2 separate regions of the Homo sapiens genome follow, and region 2 is linked to region 1. The links come from fine-mapping of genetic effects on gene expression. A gene starts in region 1. The other region holds a variant in brackets. All regions are shown on one strand. Distances are from middle to middle. Region 1 holds the start of PREX1 (phosphatidylinositol-3,4,5-trisphosphate dependent Rac exchange factor 1). Region 2 overlaps PREX1 (phosphatidylinositol-3,4,5-trisphosphate dependent Rac exchange factor 1).

Region 1 (5,366 bases):
ACGGTTTCCATGGGCCGATGGGACCTTCACACCAAGGACACACGGAGACCAGGGTGGTCCTTTAAGGCCTGCCTCTAACCACATGGAAATAAAAGCAGGGAGGGATTACCGTGCATTCTTCCAAGCCAGGAGACAGCAGGGAAAATCCCTTAGCAAATATAAAGGCTGAGAAGAGAGAGTGGGAAGACAGAAGAGAATCACAACCTGAGGCTGCCAGCCTTGCAACCATGGAAAGCCTTGGTAATTAGCAGTTCCTGAAGCTCTAAGCCCCAGGTTAGTTTTGAAAACGAAAATGCCTTGGGATGTTTAGGGGCCATTCCTGACGGGCCAAGATGAGAGAGGACTCCTGTGGCTCACAAACAACGTATGGCTGGTCAGGTTACACAATCCGTCTGTTTCTGGCACCAGCTTGGGGACACACAAAAGGCCCAGGCAGAAAGGAAGCCCGGATTCCCCGCTCCTTGTTTCACAGGTGGGGAAACTGAGGTCAGGACACGTAGCATGATTGGTCCAAGACACATGTCCAAGTCAGAACCAATTCATCTCAGAACTGACACATCAGATACAAAAAGAAAAATGTGATGAAGTCAGCAAATGTAAAGTGTTAAGGAGATAATGTGAAAGTAGAGAAATCTTTTTTTTTCCTGTTTCTTGAATAATAAGAATGGTTGGCTCCAATCAATTTCCATTATTCCAGCTTCCTCCTACTCTACACGTGGACGATTTAAAACCACAGTTAACTCAAACACAATCTAGATCTGTTCTAAAATGAAACACACCATCTAGGGCAGGGGCGTGGGAGGGAGAGGTATATTTTCTTTCCCATTAATATCAAAATTGGTTTGTATTTCCTGTTTCTCTTCCAAGCAGAGGAGCATGGAGTGGCTCAGAAGGAGAAGTCAGGAGTTCCCTAGAATTTGACATTGCTCAGAGACACCAGGGTTGTCTACATGTTTAATTCAAAAACTGCCAGCTTCTAACAGAACAAATTCTTCCCCCACCCCCCACCCCCGAAACTGTGAGAGAAGAAGGGATGGGAAAGAAAGCCAATCCTGCCTTATTCTTACAGGCCTTCCTAGAAGGGTCCTTTAGCCAAATGGTTTTCAATGCTTCTGCACAACCCCCTCTCCCACATCCCCCTGCCCCCAGTACATCTCCTTTCACAGGCAGAAGGGCTCTAGTCTAAGGCTGTCTCCTCCCTGAGCTGGAACTCTGATCTCACACAGCCTCAGCTGCACCCCTAAGCCATGAGGAGCCCCAGAGGACCCCAGAGTCTCCCTCTTTCTCCCAAAGACTAGGAGCTACAAAGCCTGGCTCTAGGGTCTTTGAAAGAGCCACCCCCACACCAGCCCTTCCTGAACCAGGATTAAAAGACTTCCTAGAGCAGAGAAGGGGAGTAAATGAGGCCCCAGCAGGAGGCATGGAGATTAAAGACTTTAGAGTCTCCTAACTTCCATCCAAGGCTCTGCCCCGTCCCACCCCCTCCACCCGCTGGCCACTTTTCTCACTTCCTAGGAGAGTAGGGAAGTGGCCCCTTCCTCCCTCTCACAGAAAAAAAGCAAAAGAAAAATGCAGCATAGAATAGGGGTTTAGAACACCAGCTGGGATAGTCCCGGTTCAAAGCCCAGTACCCCCACTTAATCAGCTGTGCGATCCCAGACAAGCTACCCGGCCCCTCTGGAGCTAAACTTTCCCAATCTTAAAAACGGAGGAGGCAGGACCCAGTAGCTCACGCCTGTAATCCCTGCACTTTGGAGGCCGAGGTCGGCGGATCACTTGAGGCCAGGAGTCCAAGACCAGCATGGCCAACATGGTGAAATCCCCTCTCTGATAAAAATACAAAAATTAGTCGGCCGTGGTGGCTGGCGCGTGCCTGTAATCCCAGCTACTCGGGAGGCTGAGGCAAGAGAATTGCTTGAACCCGGGAGGCGGAGGTTGCAGTGAACCGAGATTGCGCCACTGTACTCCAGCCTGGGTGACTGAGGGAGACTCCGTCTCAAAAAAAAATTTTTTTAATTAAAAATGGGGGAAATACTCGTCCCTACTTCATAGACCGCCTGTGAAGGTTAAACCTGCTAATTAATGACACATGTAAGGTGTCTGGCACATAGTAAGTGGTCGGTTGTTATTTTACAAAGTCTGAGGCCGTGGTTTTGCACTTGGAGATGGGGAGTTGGTGGGGGTGGATGCAGTTAGGGAGCCTGGACTGCCGAGTTTTGAGTTCGAAACCCACTCTCCCCGAACTCCAGCAAAAACCTGTGCATGGGGGATTCTACCCTGGGGTTCTGTCAATCCCCGCCCCTCCTCTGAGCTTCAGGTTTTATCCTACTCCATCAACGCGCAGGGACGTTGGGCTCTGGGGCTCCTACGGTATGTCCTAGATGAGTGGTGCACCGGGCGCGTAGTTATTCCTGGGAAAAAGACGCAGGAGCGCCAGCTCCCGGCGCCGCCGGGGTCCCCAAGCCCCTGCATCGCGGATGTAACTAATTTTAAAACTATTTGAAAGGCGGGGACGGGGAAGAAAAGACAAAAGGGCAGCGCGCGCCGCGGGGAAGTGGAGTGCGGGAGAGCCCCGGTCGGAGCAGGACCGTGCGCCGGCCAGGGAGGGAGGCGACGCGACAGCTCTGGAGGAGCTCGGATCCCCCCCGCTTTCCGCGCGCCCTGCGGGGCGCCCCCGAGGCAATTCTCCACCCACGGGGACCACGGCCACAGGTTGTGGGGACCGCAGCGGGGCGAGCGGCTGGAGGGAAAGCTGTCCCCAAGCTCCCGAGCGACACTCACCGACTGCAAGAAGCGCAAGGTGCCCACGTAGTCCCTCTCGGTGCCCAAGATCTCGTTGAGGACGCAGAGGCGGAGGCGCAGCTGGCGCTCGGACTCCCGGGCGGCCGCGCACGGGCCGGGGCCGGAGCTGGGCGCCGCGGCGCCAGGGGCCCGGGGGTCCGGGTGGGCGCAGTCCCCGGCCCCGTCGCCGCCGGGCTCGCTGCCGCTGGGCGCCTCCATTCTAGCGCGGCCGCGCGGCGCCGGCTCCTTCCGTCGCGCCGAGCGGCAACTCAGGCGTCCAGGCGCCCCATCCCGGACGGGGCGCGCCGGCGGGCCGGGCTCAGCGGCGGGCCGGGCTCCCGGCGCGGCGGGCGGGACTGGGGGCCGGGCGGCTGGGCCGGGGGCGGAGGCAGCGCGCGGGGGCCGGGCGAGGGGCGGGAGGGGGCGGCCCTCGGGGCTCCCAGACGGCTGGCCCCCCGCCCCCGCGCCAGGGACCGTCTGCCAAGTGCCACGCCGCGCTCGGCCGCAGAGGCGCTCTGCGCGTGCACGGGGCCCCTGGGGACGCGGCGCGGCGCTCGGCGCCTCCGTCGGAAGCTCGGGGGTCGGGCGGGAGCCTCCGGAAGGGCCCCGCGGAGCCGGGAGTCCGAGGCCGCGCGCACGCCGAACCGAGCGTACCAACTCCGCGCCCGGACGCGTGGCGCCCCCCCAACCCGCAGTCACCGCGGGCTACGCCACTCCCACCCGGCACACGCGACACCCGCCGCGCGCAGGCTCCTGCTTGCAGGTCCGGCCGCTGCTCGGGCCAAGTAAACACCGGGCTGGGAAAGCTCGCTGCGGAGCCGCTCGGGGGCAAGCCAGCCCCGCCACGCGCGCCTCCGCGGCCCCGGGAAGTCAGGGGCGACCGCTGCCTGGGCAGTGACGGCCCCTCTCTGGGCAGTGACGGCCCCTCCCGGGAACGCCGGGCCCTCGCGGTGCCCTCGGTGCTACCACGACCTTGGGAAGGAACATGCGTGGCGCGCGCTCGCTCTCACTTTTCTCTTTCCCGTTTCCTTTCCCATCTCTCTCTTTCCTTCCTTCCTTTTCTTTCTGAACTTCTTTGCCCCCTGACCCTGCCCTTTCCACCTTTCCCAGAAGAAATTATTACCTGCTCTTGAGTTATTGATCAAGTGGCAGGTACCCTGCCTGCTCCCCCTTCCATCCACCCACCCCATGGGATAAGGCCTTGGGAAACCCAGCTTCTTGTCAGGTTGCTCTGGGCAATGTTGATCATCACCCGCCTTATCGGAAGGTATGGAGAGGGGAGGAAGTTCTGGGGCCTAGAGTCAGCTGCTCAGGTTCAAATCCTAGCTCCCCACTTGCTGGCCGGGTGGCCTTGGGCTGGTTTCCTTGCTTCAAGATCCTCAGTGTTTTCATCAGTATAACGGGAACGATCATGGTACCTAGCTCCAAGGTCCTCCCCGGGGTTCCATGGGAAGTACTTAGCACCTAGAAAGTTCTCTGTAAATGTTTGTTCTTACTATTATTGCATGTGTGAAGCCCAACACCTAGAAAGTTCTCTGTAAATGTTTGTTCTTACTATTATTGCATGTGTGAACGGCCCTCTAAGCCTGGCCCCACTCTCAAATGGCCCATACAATCCCTAATCACCCGTGTTTCCGGACCAGAGATTGTATCGTCTCTGCAGGGGATAAAGTGATCCACATAGTATCCGCCTCTAGACTGTAGTCATTTTATGGACAGAAACATTGCTTATTTATTCCTGTTCCAAAAGCCTAGGATTTTCCTCCCATTGGCCTCTCAATACTGTAAGTGCCTAAGGACACAGGGAGAGAATGGGGTGGCTTCTGCCCTCTCTGACTTCTTTCTTTGGGATCATGGGCAAGGTAGCATTTGATCTGGGCCTTGGGCTGAGTGAAGTTCCCCTGGGCAGGGAGTAAAGGACATGAGATAGGTGAGCCTGTCACGCTTGGGTAGTGGAGTCAATTGTGTCCAAAGGTAGCTGGTTTTTTATTTATATTTTTATTCCTAATAAAGGCCTCTGGAGTATCTCTGCTTTGTGACTTTAAACTGTTCACGGTACCTTTCTGAGCCTCCGTTTCCTCATCTTTAAATTAATTCTGTCTACCACGAGGGGAGAACATGGCTGGAACATAATGGACCATGGAATGAAGCGGGCTTGCATTTGTATCCCAGTCCAAATCCAACTGGCAGGGTAACCTTGGCCAAGACACGTTATTTCTCTGGGCCTCAGTCGTCTAATCTGTAAAAGGGGAGTCTTTGTGAGAGCGAATTCTATGCAATACAGACTTTCTCAACCTTGGGACTATTGACATTTGGAGTCACATAACTCTTTGTTGGGGGAGGGGCGTGTCCTGTGCATTTCAGGACATTTAGCCGCGTCCCCTACCCACTAGATGCCAGTAGCACTCCCTCCCCAATCTGAGAATCAAAAATGTCTCCAGGCTGGGCACAGTGGCTCCGGCCTCTAATCCCAGAATTTTAGGAGGTCCAAGTGGGAGGATTGTTTGATCCCAGAAGTTCAAGACCAGCCTGGGCAACATAGCAAGACCCTGTCTCTACAAAAAAATTTTAAAAATTAGCTGGGC
Region 2 (5,366 bases), 200 kb before region 1:
TCCCGCAGCAGGGCTAAAGCGGGTCCTCCTTTGTCTCTGATGCAAGATACAGTGACAAGGCCACTGCCTGCCCTCGTGTATGCTGCGGCAAGAGAGGGAAGCGCACCCTGGAGGGCGGGAGGCTCGGATGCCAGATGCCGGGAGGGCTTCAAGCTCCCAGGCCTGGGGGCAGCAGGGAGCCCCCACCTGAACTCACCACCTGCCAGGGGTGACAGGCGTCCCCCCGCTTCCTCCCCAGCTGTGACCTTTCCCTGAAGGCATACCGAAGCTGGGGGGACAAACTGCCGAGGGGGCTTGTGTGGGTCCCTCCTCCCCAGCAGGCAGGGTGGCTTCCTGTGCTCTGGCTGGTGATGTCCCAATCGCCCTGCTCTGAGAAGTTACCATCAAGAAAATAAATCACAGAAGCCACCGCCCGGTGTTTCCCAGTGACCCTCTAACCCGTGTGACACGGCACCTCAGGTGGGGCTCCATCCCCTCCAGCTCCAACCCTGGCTGGCCACCTCTCAGGCCCTTGTAGCCAGTCACTCAAAGAGAGCGAGTTCTAACACCGGCCAACCGCTGGAGAATGGAGGGTGGGGGAAGGAATCACAGTCGATACCTCAAAACGACACCTTACAACCCTAATATTAACAAACAGGAAACAATGACATTTTTTAATTTTTCAATAATTTAGTTTTTCTTTTGTGCTCTTTTTTTTTTAGTAGAAGCAGGAACAGTTGTCAATACTACCTTCTGTTGGTCCCCTGTTAGACAACATACCTTTCTTTGAAATGTAAAATGTCAAATATATAATCACACAACTTTAGAAAAAACAAACTTTGACAACACCAACAACAAAAAATCCCAAAATAAACCAGAGATTTCATGCCATATAAATAAAGTCAGAGCAAATCTCGTGCCCAGGGCTGGTGGCCCCAGTTCCAGGGGCGGTGATGTCCAGAGCTGGTGTGGCTCTCGGGGATCCTCTGGTAACAGGCGTGATGGAGGCCCCGTCTCTCCTTTCCCGACAGAGCCAAGTCTTTTCCAAGTCCACCAAGCAGGTTAGTACAGGGTTAGGGTGAACCTGGAAGCTAAGATGAGGAGGAGGAGACACGTGTGGTCACCTGGAATGTGGACGTTGAAGGAAACCGGGGTTTCAAAAGTGCAGGCGGAGCCATCCCGAGGGAGCCGGGTGGCCCCATGTGGCCTCCATGACGTTCCCTTGGGTTCTGGGGACGCAGGAGCCGAAGGCCAGGCACCAGCTGCTCCCATCAGCTCTATGGGTCTCCAGCACCCCTCCAGCTTCTGGCAGGCGTGTGAAGAATGGGCCGGCCCAGGGCCAATCAGCCAGCTCGTCATCACAGCGAGGGTGGCCAGGCTTGTCCCGGAAGGAGGCAGGGAGGACGCTGGGCAGGTCCCGGAACGGGCGGCTGCGGAAGCCTTGGGCCATCCCTGGAGAAGGCCAGCGCTGCCTGCTGTGTCCTCCCAAATCCCAGCTCCAGAGGCCGCGGCCCAGCGTGGGGCATTTGGGTGTTCAGAGGTCCCCATCCACCGGCGGCTGGCAGAGGCGGTAGAGGCTGGGGATGGAGGCAAAGAGAATGAGGAGAGGCCGGGGCGGGCCAGGACCTATTTGTATTATTTCCATTTTTACCTGAACATGTAATTCATGCCCAGAAACCCAAACTCACAGGTATATAAAAGATGCAGAGAAAAATATCTATGCTGTCCATGCCTTCTGCTGACTGCCAGGCCCCTACCCACAGGCAGTCTCTGCCCACTCAGAGACTGGCATTTACAAATGAAGACGTGTCTACAGGTGCACGTGTGCGTTCAGCCATGTGGGGGTGGGGTGCACATTCCACACTAGTGGGGGCCAGATGGCCACAGCACTCTGCCCCTTACGCAGTTTCACTTGCTCTATCCTGGGAAACTCTATATGCAGAGATGGTTTTGGAGCCGGGGGACCAGACAGGAGGCTGCGTGGTGTCCAGGGCAAGCAGACTGCAATGCTGCACATGTGGTCTGATGTGGTCAGCGCTCGGACTCCACGCCCAGACTGCCTGGGTTCAGAATCCCAGCTTTTCCATTTACTAGCTGTGTGACATTGGACAAGATACTTAACCTCTCTGTGCCTTAGCGTCCCCACCTGCCAAGTGGGGATGACAGCCGGACTTGGCTCACAGGGCAGCTGTTTGGATTAATGAGTCCACAGAGGGGAAGCAATTGGACAGTGCGTGGCACAGGGCAAAGGCCGTGAAGGTATTGAAAGGAACCACGTGCCACTCGTGAGACACAAACAAGGTGTGTGTGGAGCCCCCAGCGCCACAGCACGCACAGTGACTCTCGTCACCACTGGCAGCAGGTGTTGCCGGCGCTC[TG/T]TGGTTACGTAAGACGTTGCCGCTGGCGGGGAGCTGCCTGAAGGGTCCATGGAACTGTGGACTATTTTTACAACTTCTTGGGAGTCACATTATTTCAAAACAAGAGTTATTTAAAACTTGTGGGCAGATGACGACAGCAAACTAGGGCTGTGGAGATGGAGAGAGGATCAGACGGAAACAACGTCATGATCCTAAAGGGCCTACATGTGGCACCAAGAGGAAGACTGAAAACCACATGAAGAGAGGGCAGGGTGGGAGGACAGGAGGAAACAGCACTCCCCATGCCAAAGACGGCAGGAACAGAGAGCATTCCTGCAAATCAGGCATCGCAGGCCTGGGCCCAGGCTGCTGTTCAGTTCGCATTTCTGTAAATGGCTAAAAGGTTAGCTTAGGTTGGATCAGCTAAAATCACAGAATTCTTAATTCCACCCCAGGTTAAAGCGAGCCGCTCAGGGGTCAGGGACTCAGGGTAGGGGGCACGGGGTGGGGGGCACATGGCATGGGACACAGGGTGGAGGGCACGGGGCGGGGGCTCAGGGCTGAGAGGGCATGGGGCTGAGGGCACAGTGTAGTGAGGTGGGAGGATCTCATAGAGTCACCGCCTCACGGCACACCTGGGGGCTCATCTTCCCGGTGGGAGCAGGAGCTCCTTTGGGAGGTGACAAAGTTGTGTCTGTTGCTCCTCAAAGAGGTTCCCCATAAATGAGAGGGGAAGCCCCATCTGAGCATTAGGGGTTAGGCCAGGAGCATGATGCCAAAGCCAGGCCTGGGTCGCCAGCTGGGAGTGGACAGGAAGGGGCGGACGAGGCAGCCACTCACCGCGGAGCACCCTGGGGCATCTGGTCCTTGACTCGCAGGTTTTTGGCCAGAATCTCCACCCTTGGGCCCTGGAAGAAGGAACCATCAGGCAGGGGCCTCTGCAGGTTCAGGGCACGTGAGGAAGCACACTGGGGGGTGGGGGTGGGGCCCAGAAGCCCAAGGACCCAGAAGCTAAGATCCTTGCTCCCCTCCAGATTCAGAGAAGGCTCAGGTCTGGGGCTGGTGGCTACCAGCCCCTCATCCCACCCTGGCTGCAAGCATGCCACGCCCTCAGCCCAGGGTGCTGGAGGACCCTGTGGCCAAGCGGCCTCACCTGCTTCCGCATGATGTCCGTGGCCTGCATGATGCACTTGGGCAGCAACCCGTGGCTCCGTGCCAAGATGGCCGCCTGCTCCAGGGACACGCTCAGGGTGCTCCTGCAGCAGGGGAGGGAGGACAGCGGGTTGGCGGTGGGGGGACAGGGGTCGGGGGAGGACAGCGGGAGTCAGAGGACAGTGGGTGAGAGCTGGGGCAACTTCCTGTCCCTCCGAGGCCTCCCAGACCCAATCCTGACCATCACGGCAACGCCTCCTCCTGCCGTCCCTCCCCGCTTGCTCCTCTTCCTCCAGGCAGCCACCACCCTCACTGGCAGGCACTCTGGTGCTTCCCCGTCTGCAGAAGCCCTGTTGAGTTCCCTGTGACATTCCCAGTGCCTCGCTCAGAGGAGGACTCGGTAAATATCTGCTGAGTGAGTGGGGGACTCCCTGGGAGCCTCACGACTTGTCGGCTCCGTGGGGTTTGAGATGGACACATCGATTCACACCTCTCTGGGTTTCTCAACAGTTCTAGAACGTGGATTCTGCAGCAAGACCTCTAGGATTCCAATCCTGTCCCTCCATGTAACTCCTCTGTGACCCTGGGTAGCTGAGTTAACCTCAGCCTCCCTATACTATTAACTATGAAACAGGGAGCATGGTGGTGCACAGAGGACCTGGCCCAGCTGGAGGGGCTGTCCTGGGAACCACAGGAAGCTGAGCAGCATCCCGGCCTCTACCCACTAAAGGCCAGGAGCTCCTCCCTCCCCTAAGTTGTGACAACCAAAAATGTGTCCAGACATTGCCAAATGTTCCCCGGGGATAAAACTGCCCCTAGGTGAGATCCCCTAAAATAGGCCCCACTACTGCACTGGTAGAGAAAGACGGAAAGGAGTTAATCTGCATGGAACGTCAATGACCTAGGAGGCAGAGAGCACTGGCCCCGTGAAACATTTATTCAGCAAATGTTTCTTGAGCACCTGTCTCAGGCCAGGCACTGCTCTAGCCTCTGGGGAACAGCAGAGAACAAAAGGGGCCCCTGCCCTCCCAGATCCAGCCCTGCCCTGAGGGAGCCAAGGAGGAAATAAATACCCCAATGAAGGCTGTCTGGGGAGTGGGGGTGAGGGCTGCAGAGGAAGAGAGGGTTGGGAGGGCACTGAGTGGGGAGAGTGGGCACAGTTTGTAACGGAAGGTCAGGAAGCACTCTGGAGAAGGTGACCTCTTCCTCCCTGGGATGAGCACTGGGGACAAAGGATGGAGGTAGGAGGCAGGGGAGCCTCCAGTGAGGTCAGCAGGCCCCATAAACCAGCCATTGCTATTGTTAATGTTGAAGGAGGCTTCCGGCGGAACTACAGGGCACAGCTCTCACACACACTCACTACGGCGTTAGAGAAGCAGGTGGCTCCACAGCCCTGCTAGGACCACCTGCTGCTGCCATTCCGTTTCACAGACAGACAAACTGAGGTGCAGACAGAGCCAAGGCTCTACAGGCAATGGCAGAACCAGGATTGGAACCCAGCCTTCCTGCCTCCTTGCCACAGGACCCCAAACTGACCAGAAGCTAGGCCAGCCCCTCCCCACACCCCGACTCAGCGGGCAGCAGCTCACCTCTGCATGCCTGTGCCACACATGACCATCTGGCAGGCCCCCAGGCGGTAGCAGAGCTCCGAGGAGATGGGGATGAGGCCGGCGCCCACACTCCCAGCAGCACCAGGCTTTGGGTGGACAAAGGACTTCATGAGGCGGCAGAGCTCATCCAGGGCATTGATGGGGCGGATCAGCTGTAGGGGGTACCACACATAACCGGGGAGTTGGAGGAGGTCCTCACAGCCCCTCAGCCCCCATCTGGCCCTCCTCCCCCACCATATCCTTCTAATCCAGCTGTTCCTGCAGCTGC

The links. PIP is the estimated chance that this variant, and not a neighbour inherited with it, causes the effect.
Region 2: its variant is fine-mapped to the expression of PREX1 in whole blood (INTERVAL, PIP above 0.99).

What each region holds. Positions count from the first base shown.
Region 1 is chr20:48,824,861-48,830,226 of GRCh38, forward strand. It overlaps PREX1 (phosphatidylinositol-3,4,5-trisphosphate dependent Rac exchange factor 1), which reads right to left and starts at 3,139. Exons shown (of 40, transcript NM_020820.4): 1 at 2,782-3,139. The coding sequence starts at 3,000. RefSeq lists silencers at 2,633-2,702, 3,113-3,792.
Region 2 is chr20:48,624,372-48,629,737 of GRCh38, forward strand. PREX1 (phosphatidylinositol-3,4,5-trisphosphate dependent Rac exchange factor 1) reads right to left here. Exons shown (of 40, transcript NM_020820.4): 37 at 5,078-5,250; 38 at 3,490-3,592; 39 at 3,177-3,244; 40 at 1-1,556. The coding sequence ends at 1,514. Among named protein-coding and RNA genes, the nearest start is that of PREX1, 200 kb to the right of the region's middle. The variant TG/T (reference allele first, on the strand shown) is at 2,357.